6 linked regions of the Homo sapiens genome follow. The protein of the gene in region 2 purifies or fractionates together with the protein of the main gene of each other region. This does not show direct contact. Each region holds a gene or a part of one and is shown on either strand. Other genes may lie near its edges.

Region 1 (2,437 bases), on a different chromosome or scaffold from region 2:
CATGAGGAATAAATAATGGAGTAGTTTGACAGGGGAAAGGTTTTTAAATCAAAAGCATTTATTCTCTTTTCCTGGATATCAGAATATGATCCCGAATCCTATCCTAAGAATAGGATGCCTGTCCTTTGTTGAGAAGGTGCAGCTTGGCTGAAATGAGAGGATGGATTGGATGGCTGGAGAGTGTTGATCCCCTCCAAGGCTTACGTGCTTTTGAGACTGGTGGCCCGTGTCCTTTTTCCTCTTTTAACTGCCTTGTTTATTGGCAGGTCAAAGGCATCACATTGCACCCTGAATTATTTTCTATCGACAATGGCCTTCTGACTCCAACAATGAAGGCGAAAAGGCCAGAGCTGCGGAACTATTTCAGGTCGCAGATAGATGACCTCTATTCCACTATCAAGGTTTAGTGTGAAGAAGAAAGCTCAGAGGAAATGGCACAGTTCCACAATCTCTTCTCCTGCTGATGGCCTTCATGTTGTTAATTTTGAATACAGCAAGTGTAGGGAAGGAAGCGTTCGTGTTTGACTTGTCCATTCGGGGTTCTTCTCATAGGAATGCTAGAGGAAAGAGAACACTGCCTTACAGTCACCTCATGTTGCAGACCATGTTTATGGTAATACACACTTTCCAAAATGAGCCTTAAAAATTGTAAAGGGGATACTATAAATGTGCTAAGTTATTTGAGACTTCCTCAGTTTAAAAAGTGGGTTTTAAATCTTCTGTCTCCCTGTTTCTCTAATCAAGGGGTTAGGACTTTGCTATCTCTGAGATGTCTGCTACTTGCTGCAAATTCTGCAGCTGTCTGCTGCTCTAAAGAGTACAGTGCACTAGAGGGAAGTGTTCCCTTTAAAAATAAGAACAACTGTCCTGGCTGGAGAATCTCACAAGCGGACCAGAGATCTTTTTAAATCCCTGCTACTGTCCCTTCTCACAGGCATTCACAGAACCCTTCTGATTCGTAAGGGTTACGAAACTCATGTTCTTCTCCAGTCCCCTGTGGTTTCTGTTGGAGCATAAGGTTTCCAGTAAGCGGGAGGGCAGATCCAACTCAGAACCATGCAGATAAGGAGCCTCTGGCAAATGGGTGCTCATCAGAACGCGTGGATTCTCTTTCATGGCAGAATGCTCTTGGACTCGGTTCTCCAGGCCTGATTCCCCGACTCCATCCTTTTTCAGGGGTTATTTAAAAATCTGCCTTAGATTCTATAGTGAAGACAAGCATTTCAAGAAAGAGTTACCTGGATCAGCCATGCTCAGCTGTGACGCCTGAATAACTGTCTACTTTATCTTCACTGAACCACTCACTCTGTGTAAAGGCCAACAGATTTTTAATGTGGTTTTCATATCAAAAGATCATGTTGGGATTAACTTGCCTTTTTCCCCAAAAAATAAACTCTCAGGCAAGCATTTCTTTAAAGCTATTAAGGGAGTATATACTTGAGTACTTATTGAAATGGACAGTAATAAGCAAATGTTCTTATAATGCTACCTGATTTCTATGAAATGTGTTTGACAAGCCAAAATTCTAGGATGTAGAAATCTGGAAAGTTCATTTCCTGGGATTCACTTCTCCAGGGATTTTTTAAAGTTAATTTGGGAAATTAACAGCAGTTCACTTTATTGTGAGTCTTTGCCACATTTGACTGAATTGAGCTGTCATTTGTACATTTAAAGCAGCTGTTTTGGGGTCTGTGAGAGTACATGTATTATATACAAGCACAACAGGGCTTGCACTAAAGAATTGTCATTGTAATAACACTACTTGGTAGCCTAACTTCATATATGTATTCTTAATTGCACAAAAAGTCAATAATTTGTCACCTTGGGGTTTTGAATGTTTGCTTTAAGTGTTGGCTATTTCTATGTTTTATAAACCAAAACAAAATTTCCAAAAACAATGAAGGAAACCAAAATAAATATTTCTGCATTTCAGGTGAGTGAGGCATCTTTTTTAATGTCATGTTTAATATTCGGAACAGCCTGTAATGTGCACAAGCGAAGAGCAAGAATGGCCCTGGGCCTGGAATCCTTCCCAGTTGTCTTCTTTTCTTCTTAGTCACCCTCCTCTAACTCAGCTGGCCTCAGGCACTGACAGACACTGACCCGAGCCTCCCACCAGGTTGTCTGTGGCAAAAGTCCTAACTGGTTGTGGAAAAGAAAGTCATGGTGTGAATAACAGAGAAGGTCCTGAAAATGCAGCTTCCTTGCTGGAAAATGTATTTCAGGCGACGCTGGCTGTAACTGGTGATTCCGTGGTGAATGTAATCCCACTATTGTATTTTAGCACTGTTTAGTCATTCTCTTACTGTAGAATTATTTCAGATGTCTCTTTATAGCAGCCAACTTTTTCTTGTTTCTTTTCTTCTATCTCCACCCTATTCCTTCTGTTACCATTTTAAAGATTTTCTTTTCCACAGGTATTAATGAATCAACCCCC
Region 2 (3,965 bases):
ATCCCAGATCATAAGATGCAGCATATGGGAAATTCTCCTAATGTCTGCAGCAGTGTCGACAAAGAGGAGCCCCTTTAGCAGGACTTTGCCCAGTGCAAAGACTGCAGTTCCTCTTACGAGCAAGACCTTTTTAACTATTCTCCCCATGTGGGAAATCCTGGTTTTAGGACCCATGTTAGCCCTCACACCCAGGGAGAAAAAAAAGGTGATGGGAGTGTAGTGAGATAACTCTGGGATAGTACTACCTCGCTTCTCATTTAACCTCTCTCTCTCATACACCCCTCACAGCCCAGTCAACACAGGCACTCATTCACTTGTGTAACTTGTGTATCTGTCAATCAACCAGCTTCCCACACAGTACTATCCCCGCTTCATGGACACTCTTGTGTCATGCAAATAGCAATTAAAAAGAAAAATCCAGGTAACCCAGGGGACTATACTCTCTTTTTTTTTTTCTTTTTTCTCTCATTTTTCCCCCTAAAAAAGGCCTTTTCCAAAAATATATTAAACCAGATAAATGTTTACTTAGATGTTCAGGTGGTTGGAGCAGATTAACAAGGAAAACAATCACAAAATAAATAGTTTTGTTTTGTTTTTGTTATTTTTTTTTAAAAAAGAACATTTCCTACACATTGTCTCTCTCTAACTTGACAGAGCTTCTTTCTTCGACAGAGAGATGCTGTTGGAAAGGAGCTCTGAAGGGACCACAATGGGAACTGGGAACAATCCAGGGCCCTGAAACTTGGTGGGGGGAGGAGGCAGCAGAGGGAGGAGTAAGGGAGGGGAGCAAGGAGGCCGCTGCCTGCCCTTGGCGCTGGTTCCTGTTGGTTGTACTTCTTGTGTTTCCCAGTCAGCGTCTGGGAGGGCACAGAGGAGGCAGCATACAAAAGTAAGAACCAATGTCAGGATTCACAAAACAACAACATTTTAAGAAATCTGGTTAAAAAGAATACAAAAGTGACTCCACAGAGGGGAAGGAAGAGCTCCGACCCCTCCCATTGTTGTCCCCTCTTGCTTTCTTGAATGACAAGAATCACTTTTAGGATTTTTGTTTGTTTCATGGTTCAGCTGGTTCTTTTTCTTAATCTCTTCCTTGGCTCCTTTCTTTCAATTGCATTCATTTTAGAAAGCACCAATCAACTTTACAGATCTGAGGCTGCTTAGTTGTAGCCTCCCTGTGCCAGTGTGTGTGTGTGTGTGTGTATGCGTGCGCGCACGCACGCAGTAGCTGTTTCTCTCTCGCCTGCTTCAGCTCGAGCCTCGAGGTCCCATCTACTGGATGCTGAAAGTCTCGTGGGAGCACACCCTGTTGGCACTAAGGTGAGGGCTTAGATTATCTTTGTACCCCAGATTCATGGATCCCCTCCTTGCCCAGTGCTGAAGTGGGCCGCCCATTAGCTACAGAGTTTGCCGGTCTCATATTCCACAGGGTTTGGCAGCTTAGAATTGAAAGCCCTCAGGGAGGACTGGATCCTGCCCACCTCATTGTTGGCCAGCTTAAGCCGATGCCGGAGCAAGCAGGAGAAAAGGTCAAGTCGGACTTTGCCAGGTGGAGAAAGCTGGTTCACCCGGTCCCTGAGCTCAATGAGCTGCAAGAGTGCAGAGTCCTGGGAACCTTGAGTATATGGGTAGTCCAACTGGAGAATTAAGTCCCGGATAGCATCTGGGTCAAAGGGCAGGCTGTAGCCAAAGACCTGCAAGGTGTTAATTTTCATGTAACCCAAATTCTTAGAGGGATCAGTCATCTCCAGGGGCTCATAGTAGATTGTCTCATTGGAGCTGTCATCCAGGGACTTGATTCGGCTCCGTAGGTAAACATGAACTGTCTCAAAGAAAGTCTTCCACCTATTCCCCAAGGTGATAGTCCAGTTTTGGCACTGGGCAGCTGCATCCACGTTAGTCCTTTCCCAGTCAGGAAAGCTGCCCTCATTCACAGGCATGAACCAGCTCTCAGAGTGGCTGCCCCCAAAGGGGTTGACGTAGATGGCCATGACAGGCTCCAGGGTGCTGTTCTTGGTGAGACAGATCTGCAAGGACAAGGCCAACATCACGTGCACCAGCCCAGGCTTGTACTTGTTGCTCTTCAGGGTGAGCAGCATGCGCTTCCTCCAGGAAGGGTCAAACCAGCTGCCCAGCCGCATGTCATTGCTGATGAAGATGGAGTGTACCTCAATGCGGCTATCCTGCTTCTGCAGCAGGTACTTTAGCTCCAGGTCCTGCAAGTCTGTCTCCAGCCCAAGAAAGTTTTCCAGGGACTCGGCCACCTCTGGCCGGCACAGCCCCTGGGCCAGCACATAGCCCGGGTTGCAGCTCCCACAGCGTGTGCTATTGTCTGGAGCACAGTGGGCACACGCGGGCCCTTCGCCCAAGGCACATGGGATGGGGCCCTGGCAGGAAGATTGGTCATAGGGGCAGGTGCAGCTGTGGCTCTGTTCCAGGAAAGTGCCAGGAAAGGTGCTTTCCCCACAGTAGAGGAGGGACTGGATTCGGTTCCACCAGTAGGACAAGGACCTTGGGGAGCAGAGATAAAATGAAGTAAGAGTCAAAAGAAGTCACACACTGACACCCTTCTTAAGGGCAGCAAGACATTGACCACTAGGCGTGGAAGGCAATGAGGAAAATAAAATCCCCAAGATCTCTGAGTGGCAGAAACTCTACTTTGCTACTTTGGACTGATTGAGCAAAGCCTAGAGCTCTGTGTCTGATGGGTCAGCACCAGAAATACTGGACACCAAATTTGTACTGAGAGCAACAAGGCTCATCTCTCCCAAGTCCTACTTCATTCCCTTATTCAAAAACCTACAGAGGATCTCCAGCATCTTTTGTGTCAAATCTGTTTTCAGCCTTCTAAATAAGATGGTTCTTCAAATCTTCTAACTTCTTGCCAACTTCCATTCCCTCTTCAAGGTTTCTGTCCTTTCTATTCTCTCTGCTCCTCTCACTCCTCCACCAAGAACAGAAATTTTATATGGCTGATTCTCTTAAAATTTTGATTTTAGCTCTTATGTTACCTCTTCAAAGAAGTCTTTCCTGATGTCCCTGCCGAAAGAACCACCACACTCATTCTCCATCACGTAACCCTGTTTTATTCAATCCATGAAAATTATCAGTAGCTGAAATTATTTATTTATTGTTTACTTGTTTATAAACGGCTTCCCTGTTAGTAAATACCATGAAAGAAGGAACACTGTCTTGAGACCAACAGCTTCTCAGAAATGAGAATTGTTTCTGTGCATGGTAAGCCTTTAATCATTATTTGTTGAAAGAAGAATAAATGAACTCCTCTCAAAACCACTTCTTCGTATGCTTCTCTTCTTACCTGTGCCTCTGATAGAGCTGTACCACTGGGTTGCTGGCCGTGAAGGCAGCTCCTTTGCCTGGAAGACTGTCCTACCTCACATGTACCAGATCATTTCCCTCTCTTCCCACAAAATGTGGCCAAGATTTTCTTCTCCAAGGAAGCTTTCATTTCTGGTTTTACCTCTAGGAGACTATCCGTTTGATTTATGTTCTACCACCATAAATTTAAGTGGTTGCCACATAGTTATAATTTTCTAGTTTTTATGTTTCTGTTTGTTAAATCTTTCCAATTCATGAATACCCCTGCAGCTTAATAGTAAGGCATGGAATACGGATTCAAAAACTTGTTAAATAAATAAATGAATCAGTGGATGAACAAGTGGATACTTGTAATGATACAGCCCCACTGTATCCCTGAGGGTGCAGGTCTCCACTTTTTTTCCTCCTGTGACCCAGAGCAGAATCATTTGTTTGACACAAGCCAGTGTGTGTGTTTTTCATCAGATGCAATTGCTGGATGAAATTTAACTCCATCCCTTTTTTTCTAAGACTTATTAAAATGGAAATCAGTAAATGAGAATTAGAGTATTACTAGAATAACATTTGAATCAACTATAATTTAGATAATAGTAAAATCAGCCCATCTTTTTTTCTCTCTCTCACTT
Region 3 (3,500 bases), on a different chromosome or scaffold from region 2:
TTTCACGCTCCCCTTTATGGAGTTGGAACAGGGAAAAAGTAAAATATTTCTACTCCTAACTAACATTAAACAGCTTTGTGCCAACACATGGGTAGGGAGAGTGCCGTGCCCACTGGCCGTGCATCAGCAACTGGCTCATCTGCTGTCAGTGTTTAACGTCAGCTCACGGGTGCCTGTGGCTGTGAAACAGGAAGCACATGCTTCAGCCTCCTTAAGCCTGAGGTGACATGCAAGTGGCAACCGGGGCCGTTTCACTGGTGAACCCGTTCATGTCTTTGTGAAGAAAGTTACATTTCAGGTCATGGTTGTGAAACTCTTTCCCTATTTTTATTATTTTTTATTATTATTTGAGATAGGGTCTTGCCCTGTTGCCCAGGTGCAATCTCTACTCACTGCAGCTTCAACCTCCTGGGCCCAGGTTCTCCTCCCACTCAGCGTCCTGAGTAGCTGGGAAGTCAGGCATGTGTCACCACGTACAGCTACATTTTTGTGTTGTTGTTGTTGTTGTTGTTTATTATTATTTTTTTGAGACGGAGTCTTGCTCTGTCTCCCAGGCTGGAGTGCAGTGGCGCGATCTCCGCTCACTGCAAGCTCTGCCTCCAGGATTCCCGCCATTCTCCTGCCTCAGCCTCCCAAGTAGCTGGGATTACAGGTGCCCGCCACTATGCCCGGCTAATTTTTTGTATTTTTAGTAGAGACGGGGTTTCACCATGTTAGCCAGGATGGTCTCGATCTCCTGACCTCGTGATCCACCCGACTCGGCCTCCCAAAGTGCTGGGATTACAGGCGTGCGCCACTGCACCTGGCCTCCCCCATTTGTAAACGCTGATTTGTTCAGATTTTGAGACAGCTCTGTGTGAGGAGTGTCGTGCCGGCCCCTCTTGGTGGTGGCTGGGCTGCTGCTGTTGCCACTTGTCTGGAAACCATTTGTGAGTCGGAGTCTTGCTCTGTAAACCAGGCTGGAGTGCAGTGGTGTGATCTCAGCTCACTGCAACCTCCGCCTCCCGGGTTCAAGCAATTCTGCCTCAGCCTCCCAAGTAGCTGGGATTACAAGCGCCTGCCAACACGTCCGGCTAATTTTTGTATTTTTAGTGGAGACAGTGTTTCACCATCTCAGCCAGTCTGGTCTTGAACTCCTGACCTCGTGAACCACCTGCCTCGGTCTCCCAAAGTGCTGGGATTACAGGCATGAGCCACCACGCCTGGCGTGTTTAAGTTCTTTTAAAGCAACTTCATATATTAAAGGGATTCGTGATATTTTCCCAAATTTGTGTTCATAACTATTTTTTATTCCCTCACATTAGCAATTTAAGTAGCAAAGATATTTAACGTAAGTTAAAATAGTTTATTATTTTGTAATTAGGAAATACTGGACTAAGTGATATAGGATATGCTTTATTTCATATTTATAAATCTTATGGATATAAGTAGGTTTTTCAGATGGTTTTTGTTTTGCTTTGGTTATTTAGGAGTACACTGTTGTCCTGTATGCCTCCCCTGTGGTTGCAAAACTTAATTGTTAAATCCTTTCTCTATTTCTCATAGGTGGTACTTTCTATTTTAACACCTCAAGGTTGAAGCAGAAGAATAAGGAGAAGGATAAGTCGAAGGGGAAGGCGCCTGAAGAGGACGAAGGTATATTCATCTGATGTTCTTCAGTCAGTAGCTGCCTCTGGATGTCTTTACATTTCTGTTTTCCTTTTAGCAAGGTGAAACCAGTCTGGAAAATGGGGAGATGGGCCGGGTGCAGTGGCTCACACTTGTAATCGAAACGCTTTGGGAGGCCCAGGTGGAAGGATCACTTGAGGCCTATACCACATAGCGAGACCCTGTCTCACTGCAAATTAAAAGGCTGGGCGTGGTGGCTCACACCTGTAATCCCAGCACTTTGGGAGGCTGAGGCAGGCGGATCACCTGCACCCTGGCCAACATGGTGAAACCCCGTCTTTACTAAAAATAGAAAATTAGCCGGGCGTGATGGCACACGCCTGTAATCCCAGCTACTCGGGAGGCTGAGGCAGGAGAATTGCTTGAACCTGGGAGGTGGAGGTTGCTGTGAGTGGAGATCATGCCATTGCACTCCAGCCTGAGCAACAAGAGCAAAACTCCATCTCAAAAAAAAAAAAATTTAAATTTAAATTTAAAAAGACCCTATCTATACAGAAAGAAAAGAAGAAAATAATTGGCCAGGCGTGGTGGTGTGCACCTGTAGTCATAGCTCAGGAGTTGGAGGAGCTTGAGCCCAGGAGTTGGAGGCTCAGCTTCAGACTCACAGCCCCAGGGGGCAGAAGGGTTGAACTCAGCTTCAGGAATGCTTTGCTTTTGGATCCTTGAGGCCTCTCGCTGGAAATCAGCGTTGTTAAGATGGACGCCCTGCTCAGCAGAGCTCATCTTTCTAGAAAGGCACCTGGCCTTGGAAGGCGAGTGAGGAACTGTCATAAGGACTTTTTCTTCCCATGTTGCTTTTCAGGAAAGCTTTCAGGATGTGGAAATGATGGTTCAGCTATTGGATGAGGGGATTATTATTGTGAATTCGAGTTTAGCAGGAGTTTGTTTCAGGAGTGACGTCCTTCTTGATTGATTTTGTGTGAGACGCTGCATTTGCCAAGGCCAGGGACAGCTTTACTCTGTGAGAGAGGAGCTCTGACTCTCCCTACTGAGCTCTCGAGGGGAGGTCATAACTGCGGGAAGGGACACCAGTGTTTCGCAGGTGGATTCAGTTTAGGCGTTTCTGGCTTTAGGCTCATCTTCAGCTTACTGTTGGTTTTACGGTAAGTGTCAATGCTTACAGCCACTCAGAACTATCTTCTAAAAGACTTCTGAATCTTCATACAAAATTGTTCTGAATTGATTTCAGGGCTCTTTCCCTGTATACTTCAACATTTCAATAAAGTGTGTCCTTTGACTTTTTTTTTTTTTTTTTTTTTTTTTTTTTTTTGCCAGAATCTCACTCTGTTGCCCCGGCTGGAGTGCAGTGGTGCGATCTCAGCTCAATGCAACCTCCCCCTCCCGGGTTCAAGCAATTCTCCTGCCTCAGCCTCCGAAGTAGCTGGGATTACAGGTGCTCACCACCACACCCTGCTAATTTTTTGTTTTTTGTTCGTTTGTTTGTTTTTGAGACGGAGTCTCGCTCTGTCGCCCAGGCTGGAGTGCAGTGGCACAATCTCGGCTCACTGCAAGCTCCACTTCCTGGGTTCATGCCATTCTCCTGCCTCAGCCTCCCTAGTAGCTGGGACTACAGGCACCCGCCACCGCACCCGGCTAATTTTTTTGTTTTATTAGAGACTGGGTTTCACCATGTTAGCCAGGATGGTCTCGATCTCCTGACCTTGTGATCTGCTCACCTTGGCCTCCCAAAGTTCTAGGATTACAGGCGTGAGCCACCGCGTCAGGCCCTCTTTTTGTATAGTAGAGATGAGGTTTTGTCTTGTTGGCCAGGCTGGTCTCAAACTCCTGACCTCAGGTGATTCACCCACCTTGGCCTCCCAAAGTGCTGAGAT
Region 4 (3,500 bases), on a different chromosome or scaffold from region 2:
CCAAGCTGCTGCCTCTGCGGGCTCTGCCTCTGCTCTTCAACCTGATCAAGGTAACATCCCGATCAAGGTAACCCCCCAACCTGCTCCTTCCCTCCCCAGCACCCCAAGCCGCCCACGCCCCCACATGGTTCCCTGTTCACCCCTTGCTCCTCTCCCAGCAGGAAACTGCTGCTTCCTGCAAAGGTATGAATCTTCTCCCTGGATCTGGTTTCAGCTCTGAGCATTTTGGCTTTTAGTGGGATTGCAGAGAGAGAAGCCACAAGGCTGGGGAAGGCTTGGTGGCTGGGGAAGGGAACCTGGGGACGTGGGGACTTTAATAATAATGCTACATGGATTCCTAAAAATGGTTTCCTTTTTGTGTCTTTCCTCCTAGGAGGCAGGCCTATCCTCTGCTTTGCAGGTCCAGAAACTCGATTGTGTCTGCTCCTCCAGAGGTGATTAGGCTCTGAGAGTGATGACTCATCCTAACTAAATCACCAGAGACGGGTTTATAAAGCAGATGCCATTTTATTCATTTATACTAGGAAGATAAATGGCATTGGTAATTGGCTTAGGGGAGTCATCATGAGGGCAGGTCCACTCCAGAAACCAAATTACAGACCTGAGGACTGTGCTGTGAGTGGCACAGCTGAGCGAGGTCTTTGAGGGCTGGAAGGAGCCACTCTGTGTGATGTGTGCCAGGCGCGTTATCAGTGTTCATCCTTTTGTTTTTCACATTACTCCTGGAAAGGAAATACTATTATGATCCCTTTTATAGATGAATAAACTGAGGCTCAGAGAGGTAAAGTAACTTGTCCAAGATCACTCAAATAGTAAGTTTAAAAGCCCAGGGCTTTGTGATTCTGAATCCTGTGCTCTTTCTGCCAAACTATACTGGTGCATTACGGATATGTCTGTCGAGCTGTGGGACCTTGCTAGGTAACCTTTGTTTTCTCTAGGAATGTTTCAGCAACGCATTTTGAGGAGGCAGAGTGCTGGTTAGTGCTGGCAGAATTTCAACACTTTTTAAAAATTTAAATGTATTTTTATTTTTATTTTTTGAGACAGAGTCTTACTCTGTTGCCCAGGCCTAGAGTGCAGTGGTGCAATCATAGCTCACTGCAGCTTCGACCTTCTGGGCTCAAGCAATCCTCCCACCTCAACTTCACTGAGTAGCTGGGACCTCAGGCATGTGCCACCATCCCCAGCTAATTTTTAAAATTTTAATTTTGTAGCCGGGTGCAGTGGCTCACGCCTGTAATCCCAGCACTTTGAGAGGCGAGGCAGGTAGATCACCTGAGGTCAGGAGTTTGAGACCAACCTGGCCAACATGGTTAACCAAGTGTGGTGCCGGGTGCCTGTAATCCCAGCTACTTGGGAGGCTGAGACGGGAGAATTGCTTGAGCCTGGGAGGCAGAGGTTGCAGTGAGCCAAGATTGCGCCACTGCACTCCAGCCTGAGCAACAGAGACTCCCTCTCAAAAATAAAAAAATAATAATAACAAAATTAAATTAAATTAAAAAATAAAAAATTTTTAATTTTGTAGAGATGGGGTCTCACTAGTGATCCTCTCACTTTGGCCTCCCAAAGTGCTGGGCTACAGGTGTGAACCACTGTGCCCAGCCAACTTTTTATTTTTATAGGCACCAAAGCATAAGGGCTAAGAACAGGGATTTGGTAACTCAGCTATTTGAGTTCAAATCCAGGCTCTGCTACTTATTAGCTGTGAGACTTTGGACAGGTTACTTAGTTCTGTGCCTCAGATTCCTTATCTGTGAAATGGAGATAATACTAGAACTTATATCACTGGCCTAATATGAAGATGAAATGAACTCATCCTCAGGGTCTAGGACATGGTAAGTGCTATTTAATTGTTTTTTGTTTGTTTGTTTTTTTGAGATGGAGTCTCGCTCTGTCGCCCAGGCTGGAGTGCAGTGGCACCGTCTCTGCTCACTGCAACCTCCACCTCCCGGATTTAAGTGATTCTCCCAGCTCAGCCTCCCAAGTAGCTGGGACTACAGGCACCTGCCACCATGCCCGGCTTATTTTTGTATTTTTAGTAGAGACAGGGTTTCTCCATGTTGGCCAGACTGGTCTTGAACTCCTGACCTCAGGTGATCCACCCACCTCAGCCTCCCACAGTGCTGGGATTACAGGAGTGAGCCACCACGCCCGGCCTATGCTGTTTAATTGTTTGTCACACATAGAAACAGACTTAGTTCCAGACCAGCCTGGCCAACATGGTGAAACCCCATCTCTACTAAAAATACAAAAATTAGCCGGGTGTGGTGGCACGTGTCTGTAATCCCAGCTACTCGGGAGGCTGAGGCAGGAGAATCTCTTGAGCCCAGGAAGTGGAGGTTGCAGTGAGCTGAGATCGCGCCACTGTACTCCAGCCTGGGTGACAGAGCGAGACTCTGTCTCACAAAAAAAAAAAAAGAAAAAAGAAAGAAACAAAGAAACAGGCTCGGGCAGCCCACCCCTTCTCACACATCACCTCCGACAGGAGGTCACAGCTGCTGCTGAGGCCACCCCGCCTTGAGGATGTGCCTGCCGGACCTGAGTTGCAACGAGAGGCTGCAGTCTCCCGAGGGGATTCAGAAAGCCCCCAGTTATTGAAAACCCAGCAGAATTGTCAGCCCTGCACCCCCAAGCCCTCTTGGAGGGAGGGTTGCCCTGGCAGAGCACTGAGCCCATCTGTTTATTCACCATCCTGTGGATTCAGCTTCACAGGGTGACATATTCTGTCACAGGTTGGTGTTGGAGAAGGGGCACTATCACCTCTATGAGAGTAACCTCACATATAAACATGAAAACAAGCCAGGTGCAGTGGGGCACACTTGTAGTCACAGCTGTCAGGAGGCCAAGGCAGGAGGATCGCTTGAGCCTAAGAGTTAAAGGCTACAGTGAGCTATGATCACACCACTGCACTCCAGCCTAGGTGACACAGCAAGACTCTGTCTCTAAACAAATAAAAATTAAAACATTAAAAAGTAAAAAAAACCCAGATGTTAAAGGACGTGCCACAAAACAACGTCATGGTTTGTTGCCAGAGGAATGACCCTTCTTCCCTTTCAGAACCATTGCAGGAATGGGGGAAGATATCACAAACCCCCAACATTTATTTCTTTGTCAGATATTTGAGTGCCTGCTGTGTGCCAGGCAATGTGTTAGAATCTGAGGAAATGTCAGTTAACAAAACTACAGGTTTCAGCCCTTTCTGATCTAGTCTGAGCTCCTCTCCCAGAAGGAAACTGCTACTTCCTGCACAGTTTGAGCACAAAAATATCAATGTAACCATATAAGGAAAAATTACAGCAAATGCCTGGGAAGAAGGAGCCCCAGATGCCATGAAAGTGTATAGTGGGGGAACTGGTCTGCGGGGTCAGGAGAGCCTCTTTGTGGAAGGGCATGTCGTCTGACCCTTGTAGCATTAGCCAAAGGAAGAAGTTGGGGGAGGGGAAATGCCCCAGGAAAGGGCAGCACCCTGGAGGCTTTTTTTTTTTTTTTTTCTCTTGAGA
Region 5 (3,500 bases), on a different chromosome or scaffold from region 2:
AATGCTAAGAACTCACTCCTAGTCAGACTGGGGGAAATTCATAACTTTCCTTTCATTTAAGGACTAGAGGTTAGAGGAAAGGTTATTCAATCAATCAACAAATATTTGTGGCTGGGCACAGAGGCTCATGCCTGTAATCTCAGCACTTTAGGAAGCTAAGGTGGGAGGATCGCTTGAGCCCAGGAGTTCAAGACTGGCCTTGGCAACAAACTGAGACCCCATCTCTACAAAAAATCAAAAATAAAATTAGCTGAGCATAGTGGTGTACACCTGTGGTCCCAGCTACACAGAAGGCTGAGGCAGGAGGATCACATGAGCCCAGGAGGTTGCTGCACTCCAGCCTGGTAGACAGATCAAGACCCTGTCTTAACACAAAACAAAACAAACAAATAAAAGAGAACAAATATTTACTAAAATATGCTGCATGCTTTATATCCTACTAAGGGCAGGTGGGAGTGAGAAGGTGAGATAGGGAGAAGACAGACCTAGAAATGAATAAGGAGCTTGGCCTCAAAAGGGAACCAGACATCCAAAAAGGGATGACTGATTTCAGGAATGTGTTAAGAAGCCCCAACAGAGCGTGTGTATAGAGTGCTGTAGGGCACAGTGAGTGGCCACTGCTGGAAAGAGTCAGGGAAAGCTTCACACATGAGCTAACATTTGCACTAGACTGTGGAGGAGGACAGCTGATCAAACAGGGAGGAGCAGTGCAGGCAGGGATTCGCATGGGTGTGAAGGCAGAGGTGCAAGAGTGCACAGGCAGAGGTCGGGACTCAGCGGGATGGCTCACTGCACTCAGCTCATGAGATCCCGGCAGGGAAAAAACAGACTCATGTGTCTTTACCCTGCAACAACTAAAGCACAATCAGAAATAGGAGAGAAAAAGGGGAATATTATCCTGGAAATGATTCTAGATATGGCATACAATCTTGTCAGCATTTGAGTGCAGGTACATCTGAAATGGGGAACTCGTAAGCTTTTAAAACAGCTAGTCTGTGATGCCTCAAGCTTCATCTTTCAGATTAAAACACATACTGCGTTAATTCCAACCTGCTTTGGCAAAAGCTCAAGGGCACTCCTTCCCAGTGACCAGCAGAGAGAAGTGGACATTTCCTCTCCAGTGCCTTAGAAAGTTCAGTGTCTTGTAAAAAAGACTCAGCATCTTCACCTCGGCAATCCTCATCCTGCTCCTCGTTAACGGGTCTCTGAAATCATCGCTGATGTTGGAGTCATTATCACAACTCAACATTTTATTATCAAGATGTCATGAAGTAGGAAGAATAATGGACTTGAAATTTAAAAAAACTAGATACAACTCTTGGTTTTGCCACTAATTTATCTTGGCTACTATGGAACCCTTCCAAAGAAGATGGATTAATGATCTTTAAGGTCCTTTTGGATTCTGAAGACTGATAATCAAAGAGGATCCATGGGATCAGAGGAACGCTTGACACGCTCTCTGACAGAAAAGGTAATGGGTCAACAATCATAATGAGAGAGAAAGTGAGGTTCTAAAGCTCTGACTCTCCAAACAACATCATGAATCATCCCACTGATCGGAAAAGATGTTCTCTTTGACATTTTCTGGGGCAAATACCGTCAGGTTCCCAATGTCTAAGGCTGCCAAGGCTGCCCTTGGGCCTCCTCAGGTTGCCCCGATTCCTTATCAGTATGTTCTGTGTTGCAGGAATGTACTAGTAATTGCCCTCAGTACCTTGGGCCTCCTCAGGTTGCCCCAATTCCTTATCAGTATGTTCTGTGTTGCAGGAATGTACTAATAATTGCCCTCAGTACCTTGTTTCCTACTAAAAAAACAAGGCAGGTTCTCTAAGACCACTTCAAAAACAGTATTTTCTTCAGGATAAATGGACGAGAATTAGGCTCGGTTCTTTCAGTGTCCTATCCTGAAGGCAAGTGATATGGTTTGGATTTTGTCTTCACCCCAATTTCATGGTGAATTATAATCCCCAGTGTTGGAGGAGGGGCCTTGTGGGAGGTGACAGGATCATGGGGGCGGATATCCCCTTTGCTGTTCTCCTGACAGTGAATTCTCATGAGACCCGGTTGTTTAAAAGTGTGTAGCATCTCCCTCCTTCACTCTCTTCCTCCTCTCCAGCCACCTAGGACCTGCCTGCTTCCCCTTCACCTTCCACCATGATTCTAAGTTTCTCTACTTACAGGGATCACTTAAGAAGAAATAAACAGCAACTGCAGTCTAAAAAATAGGTAAGTTTCAAGGATCAAAGAAGCCTGAGGGGGAGGCTAATTCTTTGGATTTAGCTTTATCTTAACTATATTACCTGTCAATGCCTCACCTTCAGTTACAGTAATCTGAAAGCAATAAAACTCAAAGCAGGCCAGATGTCACTCTGTTGTCTAAGATAGGAAAGATCATCTTTCCTGTGTTTCCTGAGGCCTCCCCGGCAATGCTTCCTGTAAAGCCTGTGGAATCATGAGCCAATTAAACCTTTTTTCTTTATAAATTACCCAGTCTCTGGAAGTTCTTTAGAGCAAAGTGAGAATGGACTAATACAGTGAGCAATCTAATCTCTTACCAGAGGGACAGCTTTAACAAATCACGTACAGGGATTTTTGTGCTGGAAGAGACTGTCAATGACCTCTTGATTCATGCTGTAAACCGTGACTCTAGAAAGGGTGACCCTCGCCATGCACACATCCGAGGATACAGCTACTACAGTAACTGACCCACGTGTCTGGACCTCTGCAGGGAAAACTCCAGCAACCAGAGACCCGGGCCTGCCTCCTACTCACCATGGGCATCCCGTTCTCCTTCTTGCGCCATATCCAGTCTGGGTGGGGGTAGCCAACTGACTTGCAATACATAGTGGCATCCTGCCCTTCATTCTTGTTCTCACTCCGTTTATGGCCAGTGATGTCAGGAGCGGCTGTGAGAAAGCGTTAGACGCAGTTACCACGGAAGTCTACTCCAAACAGGATACAAAGGCCCCACCTTCTGGCTCAGAGCCCTGCTTGTAATGTAGTCAGTCTTTATGCTTACTGTCATACTCAGCTTTGATGAAGAGCATTTCAGGTCAGAATAGGGTAAAGGGACCAAACCCATCCTCTACCCCCCACCCGCTAAAGATGCCCAGGCAGATACCAGGGTTACTAATATATGAGGCTCTACTAATGTAGGTGATTCTCCAACCTACTGGAAAAGGATGCAGGTCCAACTGCCCTCAATTAAGCCTACCTTTAAAGAAAATGCAAACAAACACTATTATCTCTTCTATCGGCCCAAGTTTTTTCTTAAAACACCTGCATGAACAACAGTTATGCATCCTGTCAAATATCACACATTCCCTTAAGGAAATGAGATTCTGAGATAAAACAACTACAATCAAGTCCTATTACAAGGTATGTAAAAACAATGAATGCTTGGAGAAGCTACTCAATAAGTAACAATGACCAAGGCTCTCCCAGGAAAGAGGGAATCCAGAAACTGGTCTTCACAAGGAGGAAGAAAGGAATGAACAGGA
Region 6 (3,500 bases), on a different chromosome or scaffold from region 2:
TGCATACCTACTATCAAAATTGTAATTGTAAATTATAATATATAATATAGAATTGTACAGAGAAAAAGTAAAACTATACTGCCCTCCTCTAACACCACTCTCTTTTCCTCTAGGGATAATTACTCTTGATGTGTATCAATCAGATTGTTTTGTATTACCCATACACATGATAAGGGTTTATTTTTAGATAAGTGGAATTATGGTATACAACTGTTCTTTGACTCCCTCCCCCTCTCTTCCCCTGCTTAACAGCATACTTTGGAACTCCTATGTCAGTGTATATATATGTCTAACCAAGAGGCTTTTCTTCTTTTTTTATTTAATAACTCAATGGTATTCCACAGTATAACTTACCATTATTTAAATCATTCCCTACTGATGGATATTTAGGATACTGCCAAATTTTCACAGTTACAAACAGTTTCACTGCAGCGAAACCTTATACATAGTTTTATACACATGTAATATTTCCCTAGAATTGTTTTCTAATAAAACTATTGGGTCAAAATGTATGCACATTTAAAAATGAGATGATTTTGGTATTCTTCAGCAAAGAGTTATACATGTGAACTCTCATTAACAGTGTATGCAAATGCCTATTTGTTAAAAGTGGATATTAAGTTCTTGCCAATCTGTCTGGTGAAAAACGGTTTACATTTCCCTAATAACCAGAGTCAATTTGAACATCTTTTCTTTTTTATTCACCAGTACTTCTTTTCCTGGGAAATGCCCATGTATAATCTTCTGCCACTTTTTGCTTTTTGTAGTGGGTACCTTTCTCTTATTGATCTTTAGGAGCTCTTTATATATTATGGATATTATGCAGTAGAAACCCTTTTATCTAATGTGATTTAGAACAATTGGTTATGTAATTTAAAAGGTTAATTTCAGGTAAACGATCATAAAAATATGTATGGCAAACATTTCACCTTCCTTTCATCAGTGGTATATATATACTCATTCAACAAACTTTGTGTGTGTGTGGTTTTGGTTTATTTATTTTTGGGGGGCTTTTTTGTTTTTTTGTTTGTTTCTGAGACAGGGTTTTGCTCTGATGCCCAGGCTGGAATGCAGTGGAGTGACCTTGGATCGCTGCAACCTCTGCCTCCCGGGCACAAGCTATCCTCCTGCCACAGCCTCCCAAGTATCTGGGACTACAGTTGTGCATCACCATGCCTGGCTAATTTTTGTTTTTGTTTTTTTGAGACAAGGTCTCACTCTGTCACCCAGGGTGGAATGCAATGACGTGAGTGATCATAGTTCACTACAACCTCCACCTACTGGGCTCAAGCAATCCTCCCACCTCAGCTTCCCCAGTAGTTGGAACCATAGGCACATGGCACCATGCCCAACTAAATTTTTGTATTTTTTGGGCTAGGCGTGGTGGCTCACGCCTGTAGTCTCAGCACTTTGGGAAGCTGAGGCAGGCAGATCACTTGAGGTCAGGAGTTTGAGACCAGCCTGGCCAACATGGCGAAACCTCATCTCTACTAAAAATACAAAAATTAGCCGGGTGTGGTGGTGGGCACCTGTAATCCCAGCTACTCGGGTGGCTGAGGCAGAAGAATCGCTTGAATCTGTGAGACGGAGGTTGTAGTGAGCCGAGATCATGCCACTGCACTCCAGCCTGGGCGACAGAGCGAGATTCCGTCTCAATAATAATAATAATAAAAATTTTCTGTAGAGATGGGGTTTCACCATGTTGCCCAGGCTGGTCTCAAACTCCTGGCCTCAAGAGATCTGCCTGCCTTGGCCTTCCAAAGTGCTGGGATTACAGGCATGACGCACTGTACCTGACCTGGGGTTTTTTTTGTTTTTGTTTTGTTTTGTTTTTTTATTTAAAGACAGGATCTCACTCTGTCTCCCAGGTTGGAATGCAGTGGTGTGATCATGACTCACTGCAACCTTGAACTCCTGGCCTCAAGCAATCCTCCTGTCTCAGCCTCCTGAGTGACTGGGGACTACAGGTGTGTGCCACCACACCCAGCTATTTTTTTTTTTTTTTTTTGAGACAGGGTCTTGCTATGTTGCTCAGGCTGGTCTTGAACTGGCTTCAAGCAATCCTCCTGCTTTGGCCCCCTAAAATGTTGGGATTACAAGCATGAGCCACCATGCCAGCCTCAAACTTTCTATATGGGGCCAAGAGGCCAAGACCTTTTTCTCTAACTCCAGGCCCATTGATTTTACATTTGACAAGTAATGTGAGTATAAAACCCTTTTAGATGGCTGGTGCGGTGGCTCACACCTATAACCCCAGCACTCTGGGAGGCCAAGGCGGGCGGATCACGAGGTCAGGAGATCGAGACCATCCTGGCTAACACGGTGAAACCCTGTCTCTACTAAAAATACAAAAAAATTAGCCAGGTGTGGTGGAGGGCGCCTGTAGTCAGGAGAATGGCGTGAACCCGGGAGGTGGAGCTTACAGTGAGCCGAGATCACGCCACTGCACTCCAGCCTGGGCAAAAGAGCGAGACTCCATCTCAAAAAATAAAATAAAATAAAATAAAATAAAACTCTTTTAGATTTTTATATTTTTTCCACGTATCTTGTATAGTCATCTTACCCACATTTAAGCGGACAGTATTTTTTTTTGCAACTTGTTTTCATTAACTCTTCTCAAAACAATTTGTTTCATCATAATGAATCTAATGTAACCATCACCCAGCTTCAACAGTTATTCATATGTGCTGAATTGTGTTTCTTCCATACTACCCACAACCCACCTCCATCCCTCACCCCTTGTATAATGTTAAGCAAATCCCAGACATCATATTATTTCATTTGTAAATTTTCAGTAAAAAGAACTCCAATCTCCCCCACTCATATATTGTCAGGTTACAACATATTAAACAAATTACCTTTTAAAAACAAATACAAGCAGGCTTAGCACGGTGGCTCACGCCTGTAATCCCAGCATTCTGGGAGGCTGAGGCAAGTGGATCACCTGAGGTCAGGAGTTCAAGACCAGCCTGGCCAACATGGCAAAACCCCGTCTCTACTAAAAATACAAAAAAAATTAGCCAGGCATGGTGGTGGGCACCTATAATCCCAGCTACTCGGGAGGCTAAGGCAGGAGAATTGCTTGAACCCAGGAGGCAGAGGTTGCAGTGAGCCGAGATTGCACCATTGCACTCCAGCCTGGGCAACAAGAGCAAAACTCCATCTCAAAAACAAACAAACCAACCAACAAACAAAAAAACAAATACAACCAACATATACAGGTTTAGTAGTAAAAAAATTTACTGTACTGGTAGGTAAACAAGCACGCTGGAGTACTGGAGATCAACCAACTAATACCAAGTATTCAGTGTACACTGTATTTTACAAAGGAAATAAAAATTATTCAATGTGGTGAGTCAATTAAGTGGAGGTCAATTAAAGCTTCTAATGCATATGTAGAAGCTTTTTCATTTTTATTTATTTTATTTATTTATTTTTTGAGACAGGGTCTCGCTCTATCACCCAGGCCAGAGTGCAGTGGTGCAATCATAGCTCTCTGC

The links.
Region 1: the proteins of BRINP2 (region 2) and ACSL1 purify together in Homo sapiens (affinity purification with mass spectrometry; one large-scale study listed by BioGRID and IntAct). This does not show direct contact.
Region 3: the proteins of BRINP2 (region 2) and SPG7 purify together in Homo sapiens (affinity purification with mass spectrometry; one large-scale study listed by BioGRID and IntAct). This does not show direct contact.
Region 4: the proteins of BRINP2 (region 2) and NLRX1 purify together in Homo sapiens (affinity purification with mass spectrometry; one large-scale study listed by BioGRID and IntAct). This does not show direct contact.
Region 5: the proteins of BRINP2 (region 2) and NPTN purify together in Homo sapiens (affinity purification with mass spectrometry; one large-scale study listed by BioGRID and IntAct). This does not show direct contact.
Region 6: the proteins of BRINP2 (region 2) and ACSL4 purify together in Homo sapiens (affinity purification with mass spectrometry; one large-scale study listed by BioGRID and IntAct). This does not show direct contact.

The regions. Positions count from the first base shown.
Region 1 is NC_000004.12:184,755,095-184,757,531, reverse strand, and holds the end of ACSL1 (long-chain-fatty-acid--CoA ligase 1), read left to right. Parts: intron 1-266; coding exon 267-407; 3' UTR 408-1,937; downstream 1,938-2,437. UniProt on the Homo sapiens protein: Catalyzes the conversion of long-chain fatty acids to their active form acyl-CoAs for both synthesis of cellular lipids, and degradation via beta-oxidation. Preferentially uses palmitoleate, oleate and linoleate.
Region 2 is NC_000001.11:177,278,958-177,282,922, reverse strand, and holds the end of BRINP2 (BMP/retinoic acid-inducible neural-specific protein 2 precursor), read right to left. Parts: intron 2,512-3,965; coding exon 1,395-2,511; 3' UTR 501-1,394; downstream 1-500. UniProt on the Homo sapiens protein: Inhibits neuronal cell proliferation by negative regulation of the cell cycle transition.
Region 3 is NC_000016.10:89,511,403-89,514,902, forward strand, and holds part of SPG7 (mitochondrial inner membrane m-AAA protease component paraplegin isoform 1 precursor), read left to right. Parts: intron 1-1,545; coding exon 1,546-1,635; intron 1,636-3,500. UniProt on the Homo sapiens protein: Catalytic component of the m-AAA protease, a protease that plays a key role in proteostasis of inner mitochondrial membrane proteins, and which is essential for axonal and neuron development.
Region 4 is NC_000011.10:119,175,225-119,178,724, forward strand, and holds part of NLRX1 (NLR family member X1 isoform 1 precursor), read left to right. Parts: coding exon 1-50; intron 51-3,500.
Region 5 is NC_000015.10:73,570,890-73,574,389, forward strand, and holds part of NPTN (neuroplastin isoform b precursor), read right to left. Parts: intron 2,907-3,500; coding exon 2,773-2,906; intron 1-2,772. UniProt on the Homo sapiens protein: Probable homophilic and heterophilic cell adhesion molecule involved in long term potentiation at hippocampal excitatory synapses through activation of p38MAPK. May also regulate neurite outgrowth by activating the FGFR1 signaling pathway.
Region 6 is NC_000023.11:109,723,258-109,726,757, forward strand, and holds part of ACSL4 (long-chain-fatty-acid--CoA ligase 4), read right to left. Parts: intron 1-3,500. UniProt on the Homo sapiens protein: Catalyzes the conversion of long-chain fatty acids to their active form acyl-CoA for both synthesis of cellular lipids, and degradation via beta-oxidation. Preferentially activates arachidonate and eicosapentaenoate as substrates.